2 separate regions of the Homo sapiens genome follow, and region 2 is linked to region 1. A link means that fine-mapping ties the variant in region 1 to the expression of a gene that starts in the linked region. Tissue or cell type: lung. Region 1 holds a variant in brackets; the other region holds the start of a gene. All regions are shown on one strand. Distances are from middle to middle.

Region 1 (4,393 bases):
CTGAGGCAAGAGGATCACTTGAGTCCAGGAGTTCAAGACCAGCCTAGTCAACATAGTGAGACCCCCGTCTCTACAGAAAAGTAACCAGGGGAGAGGTGGTGCACACCTATGGCACTCAGGGGGCTGGGGCAGGAGGATCACTTTGAGCCCAGGAGTTAGAGGCTGCAGTGAGCAATAATCGTGCCACAGCACTCCAGCCTGGGTGACAGAGTGAGACCTCTGCCTTCTGCCTCTAAAAAAGACAAAACCACCACCACCACCACAACAAAAAATCCAGTATTTGTGATCCCTTTCAAAGCACTGATTCTTCTGCTTCTCAGAGCACTCAGATTGCATCTGATCTTTGCTTGCCAGAATCATCATTTTATGGTTTAGCAAGGAGTTGTCTGCAGGCTTTGCTCCAGTAATGGTTCCAAAGACATTCAGCCACAGCTTGAATAACCTGCACCTGAGCACAAATGTGGCATTCGTAGTCAAGCACCATCGTTCCCCTTCAGTTAGTTAGTCTCGTGACTTTTTTAAGTAGTAATTCCACACCTGTCAAATGCTGTTGGAAGAGACCCTTGAATAGTTCTAGGAGAACCCTCCTCTGGGAAGAAATTTGGGACAGAAGAATTTTTCTTAAGAAGGAAGAAAAGATGGATGAGGAAAGCGCTGACTTCCTCTCATGAGGACCAACAGGCTCCACAATTCCTTTAGCGGCAGTTGTCAGCAAGATGCCCAGAACTGTCTCCAGGCGACAGCAGAGGTCAATTTCAGGTCCACAGAGTCCCACTAACCTCCTATAATTTAGAACCTAATTCAATTGTAACCTGATGGTGAAATTATTCAACAGTTTGCTTCTGGGCATTGAAATAAATAATAAAAAACAGCAAATTTAATACTGCCATTGTTGACATTCTCTACAGTGGCATCAGAAACGCCTCAAAGTCCTATTTACTTCCAAGTGGCCATCTTCATAGTACATTGTCCTTTGTGAAAGCTCTTTGCAAAGAGAATGTACGTCTATATATGTAACATTTGCACCATGCATTACAGTTTTTAAAGAGCTTAGCAAATATGAATCTTCTTTACTACACAGCACTCCTTTAAGATAAAGCATTCAATAACCAATTTTTAATCTCTTCATTGTAGCACAGGTAACTGTGTCCTTATGTTAGGAAATTATGCCCCTTAGAATACCAGTTATTCCAATTTATCAGCCTAAAATGTATATGGAGTACTTACTGTAAGTCTACATGCATAGAATTTTTTAGTGTAATAAAATATTCACTATTTAATGGACAAAACATCCGAAAGAGATCCTACTTTCTCAGAATTAGACTTCCCTTTCCTCCTCCTATTTTAAGTTCCAGGGAGAAAATAAACTAGTTATCTGGAAAGCTTATACTTAGTGGAGTTTTATAGTTTCGACTTTTGAATAGACATTAAATTTCATGCCATCTAGAATGGAAAAACATATATAACTAGACTCATTCCACGGCCTTTAAGACTTATTTGACGTGTCCAAATGTGTCCAACTATGTGTCTATATGTCTGTTTATTGCTGATGGAAACAGCAACAGTAATTCACCTTCAAAATCCCTAAAACGTGGTTGAATAAACAAATGAAGAACGCAGGATGGTGTGTAATGCCGAACTGCTGTAGGTGCAGAGTTAGGGAGGGAAAAACCCGGAAGGTTATCAGAGCCTCCAACATTCAGAAAAGACTTCCTGGAGGAGAGAGGCCTTCAATTAGGCCTCGAAGGACAGTATTTGGAGAGAGAGGAGGAGGTAGGTAAGGTGTCCCTGCCAGTAATTACAGCCTCGTGAAAGAAGCCTGCGGGACAGAAATGAATATGGTATTGAGATGGCAGAGGAGAGAGGTCAAGGGTGCCACAATCTTCAGGCACAACTAAGAAGATCCCTGCAAAGGCAACGGCTCCTCTGGGCCAGCAGAGAAAGTGGAGACCCCAAACAGGGGCTCTCAAGATAGGATGGGGCTGCGGCTGGGAGCGGCACCACCTTTGGGAGGCTGGCAAGGTGGGCAGGCCCACGGGGGAGCCGTGGCTTGCTGGCTGGGGTTTCTCCTGCCAGCAGCACTGGCGTCCTCCAAAATTGCTTCCTGCGGCTTTTCTATTTCTCTTAACTTCATCCACTGTCTTTTCTTATGTCCTGTGACCCACTCACTGCCATGCCACTGAAAATGCTGTTAGAACAAGAAAACAGTAGTCTGTGTCATGTTAATCACATCCTGCTCGAACATGGCC[A/G]GAGTTCCCTGCCCATACCCTTTATAAAGCAGTGGACAGTCCCCAGATGGGCTTGCTGGAAGTCTGCACCGGCGCTGCATGCAGGAGAGCCCCGGGCTGCTCTGACCACAGTGACATGCCGGGTTGTCACACCCTGCACGGATGCAGACAATTCCATACAGATGGATCAGCAACTTTGCAGGTCTTCACAACTATGAGCCCAGATCCGCTGAGCCAGGATGCCTCAGCAAAAGGTGACTTCACATAGGGTGGCTTGAAAAGGCAAGCAATCCTGGCTGACTGCATGCCTTCCCCAGGACCAGCACCCACCAGGTGACTCCTTTTACCCTCAACAAACTCCATCTGCCAGTCAGAGCCCCTTATCCATGAGCTTGCATAGTTTCAGAATCACTCTCAACAAGCAGAGATCCATTTGCCTCTCTGAGGTGGGACCATACAGGTGCAAGAGCCTCTCCAGACCACTGGCTGCAGGTTGGCCATGATAAACAGCCTCACCCAAGAATGCTGAGCACGCAGTTACTGTAGGTAAACAAGTCCCGGCTTCACTCTCAGCTGGAGCTGGCACTACGTTGGTATTTATGTAATGCTGCATTGGCAGATATTTCATCTGCAGTATATGTTGAAATGGACAGATAATTATTTAGAACAAATAAAATAAGCTACTTCTGAAGATGACTTGAAGTGGGCACTGACTTGCTGGGACTCTCAGGCCAGCCTCTACCACCCAAGGCAGCTCTCTACAGAACACAAAGGTCCAGCCTAGAAGGGAGTGGCTGAGGTGAGTGCCTCAGGACAAGCCAACACAGTGATGTTCATTCCAGGAATATTTATGATGAAGAGAACCCAGGAGAGCTGAAGATTAGCGTCACACTCTTATAATAGAGAAGAGTTCACCTGCACCAGGTGCCGTGTCCCGCTGGGGCCTGGCTACTCCAGAGGCTCCTCCGCTGCTGCAATGTGCCCGAGCCCCAACCTGCAAGTCCTCCTGGTAGAGTAGCTCTTAGCTCCAGCCTGCGTGTCAGACCAACGCCCACACTTTGTCCACTTCTTACTTTGTTTAGTAAGAAGGGAAGGGAAAAGGAAGAAAAAGAGGAAAGGAGGAACAAAGGAAGAGGAGAAGGAAGAAGGCAGTGCAGTAAGGGAAGGGAAAGGTGGGAAGGTGTGGAAATAAGAAGCAGAGATGAGAAGGGGCAGAGGAAGGTGGCTCTGTGGTCCTGGCCTTGTTCATGGCAAAACACACTTATACTTTGAGGGTGTTCCGCTTCCCTAAGGCACACCGGGGAAGGTCAACAGGTTCCTGTGGACCAGCGAGAAGAGGAGCCCTGTTCAGGAACAGCAGGCAATAGGAAGAGACAAAAGTGATTGATTCCCTGAGGTGCCAGAGCAGGAAGAACAGTCCAGGCATGGCCTGAGAGCAGAGCAAGGTAAAGAGCACGCCTCACCTACCCCCCAGCTCACGCTCCCAGGAGGAGGCCCTGGCCCTGCACAGCCAGCCCCTCCACCCCTCCTCCAGGAGCCTCCACCCCCGAAACCAGCCCTCAGCCCTCTCCCAACTCTGCTCCTCCAGCTGAAATACTGCCCCTCACACCAGGGCCGCATCCCTCTGGGACTACAGCTGGAGTGGCCCTGCCAGTGTAGCAAAGGGCATCTCTGGGGAGGAGATGGTCTCAGCAACTTCAAACACATTTTCTGTTAAGTTTTCTCTTGTATTGTGATGTTACAGAACACGCTCAGCAGGAATTTGTCCCCCAAGAAGTATTCTTTGCTGCAATCCATCTTCAATTCACAATGGGAATAACCTGCTCACTATCCTTTGTATTTTTCTCACCTACTTTCATGTTTTCTACATCTCTGTTAGGAGATTTAAATTATTTAGGGACAAAGCTGAAGGTGTGTGAATGGATGGATGAAGAGATGGCTGAACTGATTGATGAACAAAAAGTTCACCTGCCAGTAAAAACAGAGGAATGGAGTAGAATGCAGGAGGCCGGAGGCTGCAGGGGCATTTTACAGTTGACCTAGATGGTAATTTGGAGAGAGAGGGAGAGAAATGACACCAGCCTTGAACTTGAGAGATGCCATTTTCTAAATTACCCTGTGTGGCTAAATGACTTTTGCATGCTAGCCCAAAGAAATAACTGCCA
Region 2 (4,393 bases), 40 kb before region 1:
GTAGGTGGACATTTAGCCAGTTTGTTAACAAGGTGTTTTAAGAATGTCTTCCAGGACAATTTAAAAAAAGAGAGAATTATCTTCTCTTACAGAACAATGAAAAACAGAATTATCTTTCAGGGATGGATGTTTATTACATAACCTATTGGAGAATAATGGAAGGGAACTAGATGCCTTATGCCCAGCTTATTCATTATCTGATACCTTTAAAGGCTGAATGGCATTGCCAATTATTCATTGTGGCAGGGGCTGCCATCAATTTTTAGCTTACAGATTGCTAGTTTCTCCCGTGTTCTCTTCCATGAAACAGCAACATACTCCATTTTGTTCTCTATTTAAAAATTTTACATTGCAGCCCTCCAACAAATTAATTCCATTTAGGTTTCTTCGGGAAGAGATACAAATGAGTTTTGTGAAAGTGTACTTAAATGCAGCCATCCAGCCATCAGCATCAACAGGCAGTCAGCTGTGCCCAGTGCCATGCGCCTGATGCCCGTGACTGACAAGGGCCCGCATTCACTGTCCCGGGCTTATGTGAATGCTGACACACTGGTCACCGCAGGGCATACTGCTTGTTGCTGCTTAGTTCATGCTTGCACGGGCAGACCCCCAGGTGGCCTGTCATTTATTTCTATAAGCTAGGTCTGGTAACACCACAAAAGCAGTAACATTCATTTATATGAAGGAGAAGTACATAATCCAAAAATCAGAAAAATTACTTCTGATAGAAGAAACTAGGTTTCAAATGCGGGTCTTAATAATACAACTGGATTCCGATTGCATTACATTGGTTTTCTCTTCCAAATAATTGGCAAATGAGGACAAACAGCTCATCCCCATCCTAACAGGAAGGTCTGAATCTGAAGCCTTACCATCGGTGACTCATTAGGACCCCATTAAGAGCCAGAAAACTTGCCTAAATATAATACAAATCGAATCTTCAATGAGGACTACACATTTGTAAACTAAATTTGAAGTCCCCAAACATTTACAAGTACATTTGTTCTTCATAAGTACAGTCGTAAAGAAAAGCCCAGTCAGTGACAGTCAACCTTGAGCAACGTTGGAATATGAGGTTTGAAAGTGAAAATAGAGGTCGGCGCACAATCTAGTTAGTGCAGAGTTGCATTAGACACAAGTAGTCAGTGACCCCGATGCACGGAGGAAATTCTGAAGGTTCAACATCTGTCTGAAAATAATCGAAAGGCCCTGCCTAGCAGCACAAGGGACTTTCAAGAATGGGCTTTCCTGTAAATTTTGGATTTCTTTTCTTAGAGAAGGTAAAAATGACCTGCTTTCTACTTTTCTTCTGATTGGACTGCAATGGCCAAAAATATTTATAAGAATAAAAGTTAACAAAAACAGTCTAACCCGTCAGTTCAGAACCCTAGTAAAATTTGTTTTGGAGCCTAGAACTAGAATTGGGCAAAAGTGTAGGGCTCTTTCTCTTATACCAAAAAGCCCACTCAAATGTTCTGTGAGCCCGCTCCAAAGATAAAGTCAGAAACAACTTAACAACTTCGTCTTCTTTCACTGATTACTTCCCTCGTGTTCTGTCTATTGCTGATGATGTCCTGACAAACAGCTCCAAGCACACTCACCCAGTGCCCGTGTGCAGCATGCAGACCACTTGTCACCCAATCCATTTCTGAGGGATGACTGTGTTCCTGAAACAACTGAAATCAGAAATCCCTTATTTAGCATTTATTAGAATACTGAATTTAAAATATTACATATTATCATTTGAAAAACAAAACAAACAAACAAAAAACCTGTTACTTAGATTCAAGTTAAAAGAGGGACTATGTATTCACCCTTAGTCCAGGAGAACAGCTTAAAATATGAGCACCTTTTCCTAAGCCATTCCACTTAAATGGACACTAGACCTCAAAATTGCAAACAATAAATACATAAATAAAAGCAATAATTAAAAAACTAACTTCACCATCATCCCTTCCCGCCACCCCCCAAACCTACTTCCTTCCCAGGCTTCAGATGAAATTTCTATGAATGATCCCACCCAGTCTCATTCCTCAGCTCAGTGTCAAGTTCCAGTGTCCTCTGATCTTCCCTTTCTCTGACCCCCACACCTTTATGGCGAGTGGCCCCCCAACGCCACGAGGCCTTTCCCCTTCACTGCTATGGCCGCTTTCTGCACCACCCTTGGGGGAGGTCACAGCCTCTCTGTGACCTAAGCTCTCTCCTCTCTAAAGAGAAGGCATCCACTTAGGTGGTTTATAGGGTTTCTCCTAGCTCAAGGATCTTGAGTGTATCGTTGAGCTAAGATACACTCACGAGCTGAGACCTCCTGACTCAGGCACTGTGGCTGCACTCCACCAGGTGACTTATCTGTGGACCACACTCCACGTGGCCATCTGTGCCTATGCTCTTCCTCCACCCATCCACCAAAATGCCATCTTCTCCACTCCCACTCAGAGCCATGACGTCCCTCTGCCCCCAGGTTGTCCAGGATCCTCTCATCTTCCATTTCCAGCCACCTTTTTTCTCTAAACCCTGTAACACTTCATAGGAGTCCCTCCCAATGAAAGCCACACCCCGCCTGGTGTCTCACACCCCAAAGCAGACTGTAAGCTTCCTGAAGACTGTCCTGCTCCTCAATGTCCCATCCCCTCCCGAACTGACCAGCGGTGCTATCTACGGGGAAGCACCGGGGCAGTTGTTGTTGAATTGATTTCAGTTAATTCAGTTTTTAACTGAATCACACAAAGGATGTCACAAGCTAGCTTTTATAACTAAAGAAAGCACAGTTGTGCAGCTGCCTCCAGAGTCTCTGGGGGTTAGAGGGAATGAAATAGGGAAAGTCCCCAGAAGCCAGCTGACTGCTGCTCAAACCAGGTGCAGGTTGGGAGAAAATCTGTAGTGAATGAAGGAAAATGAAATGCACAGTGGAAAAGAATACCAACATTCTTGCAAAGGAACCTTAAAGTATTATTTTTGCAAAGAATGCAAGGATTATTTCAGTTCCCTTGTTGACTGTTTTGTATGGTCTTCCTACAGATACTTTCAGAAAAAGATCTATTGTTTGTTTTTCTCTGTGCTGACACAGTATCCATTGTTTAGAACTGTAATCATAGCACACATAGTTGAAAATGTGGGCTCGGGGACAAGCTGTATTTTCCCCTCTGGTTCTTTAGACAGTGAATACTGTGTTCTTTATCTCTTATCACAGCTCTTTTGTCAAACATTTAATGATTTTTTCCCCCAGACAAATTTGTAGTTTGTTATCAACCATAAAAATGTCTATTGCCTTATTTTTAAACATTTAAACTTTGGTAAGTGTGTCTCAAGATGAGCATGAATTAAGGTGTTTATTTCATTTTAAATACTTTTTTTTATCATAGCGTACAAAGCTAGAGTTCTCTGACATGGATGGCTTATGTGGATCTCTATTTAGACTTGATGAGAGAACATTTTATTTTTGTACTGTGTGTATTTGCAGGGAAGATGGTTAGGCTGACTGGCTCCCAGGTTGGGTGTGTTGGGAGCATCTGTCAAGGGTTGGACAGGTGCAGACATCTGTGACGTCCTGCAGTAGGCAGCCATCACTCGATTTCCTGCTTAAAAAGATCTGACACACTTCTTCACTCCTTGGATCTCCATTTTTTCCAAATGCCCGATACTTCTTACCATTCTACAACCCTTAAACCGGATCCCAAAGTCTGTGAGAGATAAAAGCCTTTTTTAAACCCAATAAACAGTCACTCTTTGTTGTTCCTGGTTTTAAAATGACAATTTATTGCTTGATACAGACATTTGAAGCCTATAATTCAAATGAATATTTATAAAAATAAATTTCAAGCACACTGGCATGTAACTGCAGGGTAATTTTTAAATATTCATTTTTAAGGTGGTGATAGAGTCTAGAAAAATTTTAATGTGCCACGTTATATTTTATAAATATCCAACTATAGAAATATGCCTTGTGTGCTAATCATTTCCATAAGGCTTCACTTAGATTGAGAGAGTGAAAATGGGTGTCAGTCTTTCAAATATCCAGAGGAAAAACTTTCATTTTGTTTTAAATTTGTTTTTGAGGGCTGAATTTAAACTTAAGACAATGTATGAAGAGTTAAGGTCAGAGTTGGTACTTTCACCACTATTCCATTTGTATTGCTTTAAATTCTCTGATTAAGTGTGGAAAACTATCAACAAGGCGATTGTTCCCAGGGGCTGCCCGGCCAGAAATACCGAGACTGACCATTTTTAAGAACCCAGTGCTATGTGCGGAACAGGGCGGCATGGTGGCCTCCTGAGAACTGGGAGGGAAACACTAAATGAAGACGTGAACACATGGGATTTCTTTCTTTCTTTATTTTTATTAAATAAAAAATATTTTTATTTTGTTATATTGAACTCGACAAATTTTCCTCAG

The links. PIP is the estimated chance that this variant, and not a neighbour inherited with it, causes the effect. A credible set is the group of variants that fine-mapping cannot tell apart.
Region 2: PACRG-AS3 starts here. The variant in region 1 is the best candidate, but not a certain one, in a credible set for the expression of PACRG-AS3 in lung (TOPMed, PIP 0.64).

Annotation. Positions count from the first base shown.
Region 1 is chr6:163,229,124-163,233,516 of GRCh38, forward strand. The region is part of intron 4 of PACRG (parkin coregulated); the gene reads left to right. Among named protein-coding and RNA genes, the nearest start is that of PACRG-AS3, 39 kb to the left of the region's middle. The variant A/G (reference allele first, on the strand shown) is at 2,250.
Region 2 is chr6:163,189,307-163,193,699 of GRCh38, forward strand. It overlaps PACRG-AS3 (PACRG antisense RNA 3), which reads right to left and starts at 2,696. Exons shown (of 4, transcript NR_122120.1): 1 at 2,575-2,696; 2 at 1,602-1,676. The region is part of intron 4 of PACRG (parkin coregulated); the gene reads left to right.